Linked DNA regions of Homo sapiens. The protein of the gene in region 1 purifies or fractionates together with the protein of each later gene. This does not show direct contact. Each region holds a gene or a part of one and is shown on either strand. Other genes may lie near its edges.

The links. The genes of interacting proteins can lie anywhere in the genome.
Region 2: the proteins of ADIPOR1 (region 1) and CDH13 purify together in Homo sapiens (affinity purification with western blotting, with the first as the bait; one study listed by BioGRID). This does not show direct contact.

The regions. Positions count from the first base shown.
Region 1 is NC_000001.11:202,947,536-202,952,680, forward strand, and holds part of ADIPOR1 (adiponectin receptor protein 1), read right to left. Parts: intron 3,630-5,145; 5' UTR 3,536-3,629; coding exon 3,395-3,535; intron 886-3,394; coding exon 769-885; intron 1-768. UniProt on the Homo sapiens protein: Receptor for ADIPOQ, an essential hormone secreted by adipocytes that regulates glucose and lipid metabolism. Required for normal glucose and fat homeostasis and for maintaining a normal body weight.
Region 2 is NC_000016.10:83,795,469-83,799,790, reverse strand, and holds part of CDH13 (cadherin-13 isoform 1 preproprotein), read right to left. Parts: 3' UTR 1-4,322.

The sequences.
Region 1 (5,145 bases):
TATGGTACAACCTCCTTTAGGCTACTTGAAATTTCAAAATTGATATACTGAATAAAAACAAAAAAATTATAAACGTTGTTTTAAAAAACGTACAGATCCCTCCTTTGCCCCTCTCCAGGAGATTCTATCTCATGTCTCATCCCTCCCCCAATTAGATTCTAAGTTCTTACCACATCTTTTTAGAGTAGGGGTTCTTAATCTAGGATCCATGCACTATGGACAGGATCCAGGGAATAGATGGAAAAAATTGTATTTCCATTTACCTCTAAGTAAATTGAGCATTTTCCTCAATTATAAGCATAAGCAACAAACCACAGTATTAGTAGAACTTGTGGCTTTGTCACCAATAGAAATCAGATACTCTCACACATTAGTTCTGCAGGTATCTCAAAATACTGTTTCTATTCATCATTACTTAGAAATTACAAATTTTAATAAAATACATTAGTGCTCATCATTCATGTATATTTAATGTGTTAACAAAGGCATTCATATTACTGTCATATTGAAATATTTTGATGACTTCCAAAGGCGCCCCTTGCATAGAAAAGAATCCGTTTTAAGAATATATTTTGAACAATGCCTCACAGAGTAGGCAGTAAAAATTTAGCCAGTCTTCACATTGATTTACCTCATCTTAACCAAAAAACAAATCCACTCCTTCCCAGGAATAAAAGCTCTTCGACCCAGTGCAAGCTTGCTGGCTGGGGACATCCCAGACAGGCCTGCTGCCCTTCCCCTTCCAGGACAGAAGCTCATAGGCCATACCTTGTACACAAACTCTTCCATCTTCTCCATGGCGTGGTGGGCTTGCAGGGGAAGTGTCAGTACCCGCACCTCCTCCTCTTCTTCCTGGGGCACTGGGCATGTTTGCTCTTCTTCAGCCTATGGGGGAAAAAACCCACAACAATCCAGGGAGTCATCTCATAAATTGTACTATTCCAGAGCAGAGAGACCCAGAAAAACCCAAACCTAATGCCTTCTGCCCAGCCTCTTTCCTACAGAGGGTCTTGTGGTCTCTTCTCCAAAAGCATACACACTGAGTTTACAACACTAGTTAGAAATTTATTAATACTTCGTAAATGCTGGAGTGAACATTCTATGCAGTGCGTAAAAGAAGGACTGTCACAGAGACTAGCATTGGGGGAATACACCAGCTCTAGGTACTGAATGACATCCTTTTCTTTAGGATAGTGGTTCTTAACTTTCCTCAGTTTCCCAAAGAGTTCTCTTTTCTAAGCCATTACATTTTCTTTCTTTCTTTTTTTTTTTTTGAAATGGAATATCCCTCTGTCACCCAGGCTGGAGTACAGTGGTGCGATCTCTGTTCACTGCAACCTCCGCCTCCCGGGTTCAAGCAATTCTCATGCCTCGGCCTCCAAGTAGCTGGGATTACAGGCGCCCACCACCATGCCTGACTAATTTTTGTATTTTTAGTAGAGATGGGGTTTCACCATGTTGGCCAGGCTGTTCTCAATCTCCTGACCTCACGTGATCCTCCTGCCTCGGCCTCCCAAAGTGCTGGGATTACAGGCTGAGCCACCATGCCCAGCCTACGTTTTCAAAACAACGAAAAAGACACAGAGTCTCAGAGAGTTCCATAACAATAATTCTGTTCAGAGTTCCCTGTTCACTGACTCTAGGGATGCTGTCATGATTGAAACTTTGTATCTACAGCAGCTCCCAGGAGTACCAGGGCCTCAGAACTGGTTCCATGGAAAACAGCGGTACTGACTCCAGGGCCTAAAAAAGCGCACCCAGAGGGCCGGGCGCGGTGGCTCACGCCTGTAATCCCAGCACTTTGGGAGGCCGAGGCGGGCGGATCACGAGGTCAGGAGATCGAGACCATCCTGGCTAACACGGTGAAACCCTGTCTCTACTAAAAATACAAAAAATTAGCCGGGCGAGGTGGCGGGCACCTGTAGTCCCAGCTACTCGGGAGGCTGAGGCAGGAGAATGGCATGAACCCTGGAGGGCGGAGCCTGCAGTGAGCCGAGAACGTGCCACTGCACTCCAGCCAGGGCGACAGCGAGACTCTGTCTCCAAAAAAAAAAAAAAAAAACACACCCAGGAGAGCACTTGCCTGTGAAAGGGAGAGAACTTTCTCTCTCTCTATCCCAAGGCTCCGAATCATGGCTATAGAAAGCCTGGCAGTTCAACTCCTTTTCTGGGCTATTTCTCTCCTGTTGCTGATGGTCACTAGTAAACACATGGTCCATCTTAGATTTTGTGCTACAGCTTCCAGCCAGTCTACCCTAACATCCATTCTCTCTCTTCCTAAGTAACAAAGCCCACGGTTTTGTTCAGGGTGGCAATGTTACTGCAATTTTACTCAGGCTGCACTTTCTAACCTCCACTGCAGCTGAATATAGTTATGTAAGTAAGTTCTGGCCGAAGTCTTATGAGGTACTTCCTGATAGTCCCTTTATTTATTTTTGTTTTTTCTGAGAGGGGGTTTCACTCGTTGCCCAGGCTGGAGTGCAATGGCACGATCTCGGCTCACTGCAACCTCTGCCTCCCAGATTCAAGCGATTCTCCTGCCTCAGCCTCCCGAGTAGCTGGGATTACAGGCGACTGCCACCACACCCAGCTAATTTTTGTGTTTTTAGTAGAGAGGGGGCTTCACTATGTTGGCCAGGCTGGTCTCGAACTCCTGATCTCAGGTGATCCACCTGCCTCGGCCTCTCAAAGTGTTGGGATTACAGGTGTGAGCCACCGTGCCCGGCCCTGATAGTCCCTTTAAAAGGCAAAGAGTTGGCCGGGCACAGTGGCTCATACCTGTAATTCCAACACTTTGGGAGGCTGAGGCAGGAGGATCACTTGAGCCTAGGAGTTTAAGATCAGCCTAGGCAACATGGCGAGATCTTATCTCAATAAAAATAAAAGGGAAAGAGAGGGCCTTTCTTCTCGTTTCCCTTTCATGGGGGGTAGAATGTGGGTATGATGGGCACATATTAAGAGTGATGGGAGAGCAACACAGGTGCCTGACAGTGGTGGATCCTCCATATCAGCCCTGGATTGGTTACTTCTGAAATTCTTTTGCTTGAGAGACTTCTGTCCTGTCAAAACTGTAAGGATTTTTGTGTGTTATATGAAGTCAAACCTAATCCTAATTGACTGCTTCCTTCATTCATTCAGATATTTACTGATTATTTATTGGACTGCAGGCCTTGTGCTAAGCACTGGTGTTACAAAGATGAGTGCATTCCCAAAAGCTTACAATGGGGAAAGCAGACAACAAGATGTTTATAACAGTATCATAGGGACTTGGATAGAGACATTTCCAGGATGCAATGTTCCTCCTTTTGGACGGTGAGCTCTTAAAAAAGAGAAAATGACAGAGTTCTAAGGAGAGAAACTGAACAAGGGGATGACTCCTGGGAAGATGACTTACTTTGGGTGGGTTGGCGATTACCCGTTTGCCCTTCTCTTCTAGCAGGGGTCCCAGTTCAGCCAGTTCCACCGTGTCAGCTTCCCTGTTACTGGCAGGAGCCCCATTCCCCTGTGCCACCACAGATCCTTTGTGGGAAGACATCTGGCTGGTACCTCAATACCCTGCAGCTTCAGCTTGGGGAAAGGTTGGGGTCTCTCAGCCCCAGGGGGCAGAGATCTCCCTCTGATGGTAGACACTAAAAGAAAATACAAACATGAAGGATTGACAATTTATTCCTCTTACAGTTTCATTTCTATACTCTAATACTGAATAAGAAGCTAATCAACTCATATCCTGTCCCCAATTCTAAAGGCCAGTTAATTGCTTAAATGAAATCTATTCCTGTCCTCCCTCTTTAATGTCAACCTTTACCCAGAACCTCACTAATCTTATAGGTAAGGCTGAAAATGTAACACCTAGTTGCTTGCTTTCATATGATCTATGGTTACTGCACCAAACTGTCACCATAGAAAAACAGCTACCCACCCTCAACTCCCTCCCACAGGTATGGAACCATTTAGTGAGAAGAATCTCATCTATCACTCCCAAAGCTCACTCTGCCCAAGAAAGGCCTAGCTCTGAGACCGAGGAATAAAAATATAAAGCCAACATCTGGCTGCAATTACTACAAGATCATCCAGGCTTAGAAATGAATTAAATGCCAACTGAACTCAGTTAGACCTTATCTACAAATGCTCTGATAAATGTGTCATACATACAAAAGGAACTTGGTTGTGGGACAGATGCCTAGTGGTTAATTTCTCTGCGAAGTCTACTAATTCTATTACAGGATTATAGCCTGAGTTCAACCCTGGGATAACAAGCTTTCATCACAATCTGTCCTGCAAGCAAGCAAGAACTTACCTGGAAGCAGGAAGGTGAAGACAAGGAGGCAGCCCCAATTTACCCTTTGCCACACACATACCTAATAACCAGCTCCACAATAACTTGTTTCAACCACCACAACCCATAATCTAAGCCCTACTCAAATGAGTATTTCAGAAACTAGAGACAGGCACACACAAAATCAGAAAAACCCAGAATTCCATTTTCTAGGAAAAATCTCAGACACTTTAGGTTTTCCTGGGTTGGATTTTCACAGTAGTCTTTAAACAGGCCTCAGGGAAATGCAAATAAAAAAAGAGGGAAAGAGGGAGAAAGTTTCCAAAGATTTCCACTATGCTGTAAATTATTAGTTCTCTCCCCACCTCTACCCCCATACAAAGGACTTTATTAGTTATAGCAATAGCAGTAGCCAGAATATTAGCATTTTCTTGCATTGGTTACCCAAGCCCCACCCAAACCCAAATAACCACATTGCAATGCAGGGAGGGCCAGGTAACAACTGCACATGGAGTGGGTTGCATTCCGGGAGAGGAAACTTAAGCTTAGGGAGCCCCAATCTTTTATATTGGGCAGTAAACATAACTTTGCTCCTGAGGGAGACACTATATCATCCATGGCTATTCACTATATACAAATATCTTTGATATCTTGTGTCAGTTCTTTTTTATCTAAGAGTAATCACAATTCCTTCTCAGGGATTATAAATCTCTTTCTCTGACTCCCTAACTCTCTCTGTCTCTCCCCCTCCTTCCCTCCTGGAGCTGGGACACCCTTCTTTTCCTGCCCTTGGACATCAGAAACTCCAGGTTCTCCTGCCTTGGGATTCCGGGACGTGCACCAATAGCCCCTTGGGTTCTCAGGCCTTC
Region 2 (4,322 bases), on another chromosome or scaffold:
AGTAAGGGTAACACATTGCATATAGTAAAAGAATTGTTAATTGTGTTAGATGAACCATTTTGAAAGCATTTTATCATTAGACTGTGAAAATTATCAAATCTCAACAGTCAGTTAAGGAGAGAAGATGGAGGTCTTTATGAAAGATGTAGCCAGATTATTAGATTATTATTCTTAGTATTTGGTAAACAGAAAAGGTAGGTGGCTTTTTTAGTGCTTGGGTTTCCTGTTGGTGTGACTTACCCTGTTGACTCATGTTTAAGGCAGCTACACGTAAACAGATTTATGGGCTACCTTTACAAAATCAGCAACTACTTAGAGATCCTTTAGAATTTGCCCCTTTGAATGATTTATAGCAAAGCACAGTGCAAACCCTTTGAGACCCCACCCCACTTTCTCCCTCAGTTTTCTCTCCCCTCAGTTGGTTTGGTAGTGAATGGGTACTCTGGAGTTCATAAATTTCCTTTTCTTTCTTTTTTTTTTTTTTTTTTTTTGACGGAGTCTTGCTCTGTTGCCCAGGCTGGAGTGCAATGGCTCACTGCAAACTCTGCCTCCTGGGTTCAAGCGATTCTCCTGCCTCAGCCTCCTGAGTAGCTGGGGTTTCAGGTGTGCACCACCACACCCAGCTAATTTTTGTATTTTTTAGTAGAGATAGGGTTTCACCATGCTGGCCAGGCTGGTCTTGAACTCCTGACCTTAAGTGATCCACCCGCCTCTGCCTCCCAAAGGGCTGGGATTACAGGCATGAGTCACCATGCCCGGCTACTTTTGATTAACTGAGATGTTAAATTAATCTAGGAGAAGCCCCTCATCTACCTGCTAACAAGCCATGGAAGGGAAGGGGCAAATAATTACGTTATCTTGCACAGGAAAAATTTCTAAGGTCTCAATATTAATTTAGAACGATGTTAACATTTTTTTTTTTAACAGAAAGCTTTCAGATTGAAGAAGTATAGCATGAACTTAATAATAGGTAACAGAAGATACTGTTAGTAAAAGGTACTTAATAGTAAAGGGTACCTCATAGTAAAAGGTACTGTTGCTTAACAGTAAGTTGGTCTAGCTGCATAGTCACGCTAATGGAGGCTTCAAACGAGGGTCTTCCGGTCTGCAGTAGGCACTTTGTCTGGTTTTGCTCCTGGGTTGAGAGTGGCATTGTGATGTTGTCGGAAGAACATGAACCCTGGAGCCAGATAGCCTGAGGTTTGGTTCTGGAGGCCACTTACCTTGGGCAAGCCATTCAATTTTTCTGAGCCTCAGCCTTCTTTATCTGTGAGTTGGAGAAGATAGTAGTGCTTGTCTCATATGTTACTGGAGGGATTAATGAGTTACTATCTGTAAGGATTTTGTACAGTGTGGGCACATAATAAGCAGTTGATAAATATAAACCATTATTATAATTATTAATCACCTTTTTGGTACCATGTTCATACACCCCCTAGGAAAATTGTAGACTCCTTTCCTCAGAATCATCTGGAGAGCTCGTGCCTGGGTGCAACTGCACTAAATCCAGGATCAAACACAGACTTGTTAAAAATTTTTTAGTTGTCACATCTTAAGATTAAGACCCAGTGTATTTATTTGGGTAAAATGCAATTTGAGCTACTCTATGAGTGTGATGGTAGATGGTTGTTCCATTTATCAGACTGTTTTAAATGACATTCTGAAACTCTGGAATGAGCTATCAAAATTTCTAACGATGTTCTTTAAGAGCCAAAGTCTTATTTGATACCTACCATGAAATCTGGCTGGATTTATTTCGTTATAATGCTTAGATTTGCTGGTGTCGGCCAAGAGGCACAGCAGGTATATCTGCCTGGAATGATGCTCATTTGGAGAGAACTGGCGGTATTGAAGGTGACTTTTATTGAAATTAGAAAATGTGTGCATATTCTTATTAAAACAAATTATCCAAAATAATTAATTTATCGTATGTAAAATGAGGGAGAAAATGTGATTTTTAATCAACTAAGTTGGTTGAGTATTAATAAAAAGAAGTGAAGGTGTGACTATTTGCTCAGTGGAAATAAAACCCTCAGACCTGTGCTCAGTAATTGGGAAAAGCAATTTCTGGTCCTTACTTGACTTCGTTTTTTAATAAGTTGGACTCAGATAAAATGCATAGGTAATAATGAAATAACATTTTGATTCTACTATGGTTTTCAGTAAACAATGTAATATATTCCAGCAAATGAACAAAACATCTTATGATTCAGGAAATGCTACCACTTTGGCCTATAAGAATTGGTTTATTTTCCTTTTTTTCTGGAAACTATTAGGAGGAACAACATGACAGAAGTATCTCTGTCCTGATTAGAACTGTGGGGACAGAGAATATGTTTAAATAAGGGAAAGTTGAGGCATATTCTATTTATTAATGAAGTGTGCACTTTACTCCTATTTTTCTGAATTTTCAGCGAAGTTAATCTTCTGGTTCGGTTCACAAAGTGCAGGAGAGCCTACCAGCTTGAGAGAAAAGGAGTCATGCTGTATTTGTTTCCTTGAGTGAATGGCCACTCAGCTGCTGTGTTTCTCCCTGCATGTGGCTGAAGTTTACATTGGAGGGTGACTTCCTGATTGCCAGTTAGCATATGTGTCCGGCTACCAGCCGCCTGACTGGCTGAGGATGCTCTTTGTTTGTTCAAGGATGAACGTTCTCCCCCTGCCTTGCAGGAAGAGGGGAGCAAGGTGCGCCCGGGAGACGCGTGACAGTGCCCTGTAAAGCCAGTAGAGGAAATCTTGTGGAGTGTGAATGCACAGGCTTAGATTCCCCTGTCCCTGAGTCGGGGGCATGTGCTCGTGGAGAATGACCCTATCAAGTTCAAGGTGTGGCATCTCCTGATCCAGCAACAGGATTTGTTCCAGAGAAAAATCCCCAGGTCTTGGGACTGTTGACAGATGGCCATGACTATGCTTAATGTGGTCATCAACTGAGAATGGTCCGTCTCATCTTTGAGTATGCAATTACCTTTATAGCTGATTATGACACCCTCAGATCATATCATGAGGTGGACAAGATGAGTCCATGGCCCATGCTGAGAACTGGTACTTCTGTCTTCATAGACTCACTCACCAACCAGAGATGTACGACGGACCCCAAATGGTCTGTCAAAAATGTGAACTTGCACTAAGACAAGACCCAACATCAGTGACATTGGACACAAGATAGAAATCAGAGAACAGTTACTGTCCAGCAGTTTTAACCACCAATACCCATTTATTTTAATGGAAAAAAAAATCTCTGCATTCTATATGTTCCAAAAGGATTTACCATTGAAACAAATACAATATATGGAACTCTATCTGTATAATTTCACTACAACAAAGACAACATATGACTTCTACTTCCTACAGAAGGCTAACTGAAAGCACAAGTGCAAACATAGATTGCATAAGAAAGCGTGTGTGTGTGCATGTGCGGTTAAAACCTTTAGTAAGCAACTGCATTAAAATATGCTAAGACACTCACCTTACCCTAGTTCGTGGCGAGCTCTAATAAAAAGCCACAAGCTGTCACTAGTTTTATTTGATAGAAAAATTTGGTGTGAGCTTTGATGATTCATTTATGGTTTATCAACAAGAAGGTAATCTTAGAACAAGCACTAACTTTCCGCTTTTACATGCTCACAGAATACAAATCAGTTACTTTTCATACATAATGAACGTCTTTTATTTTCGGGTTTGCAAACAACGGTAGTCAATTCACACAAAAGGGTACTTTTAAAACTACCTGTATTTACTCTATTTTATGCCTGTATATATGAAACAAACAGCGTGAATGTGCATAAATGTATGTCTGTACATGTGGGTATATATGTGTATACAAGATGGTACCTGTACACCTCTTTGTATGCATGTATGACCTCCATGATGACAGGTGCAGTTGTACATTTACTGAGGAGGGAGAGATTCTCTACCATGATCTGTGTCCCCATTAGAATCAGTACGACTGTGGATTCGGGACACATACAAATGCAGGTTGGTGCCCATGAAAGAAAATGTCAGCCCTTTTCTTGGCATTTGGTGGTGAAATTGCCTGCTCTGCTCCTCACCTCCTTGGCTCAGGATCACGGCATCAGATGGCAGTGTAAATTGGTTGTAGTCCTCGAACTCAATAAAGAGAAAGGACTTCTTTCTCTGCTCTCCCTCTCTGTGGACCTGCCTGGCTGGTTGTGGCAGCATTCAGACTGAACGGGACAGTGGAGAAGTAGCTTCGGAGCAAAAGTGACAGCTCTGTGGTCTGTCCTCATGCTGACCTTGATGCGGGAGGCCCTGGAGGGTTCAGGTGTCTTAGTTTCCACCCACCTTGCTTAACCTTGCAAGGA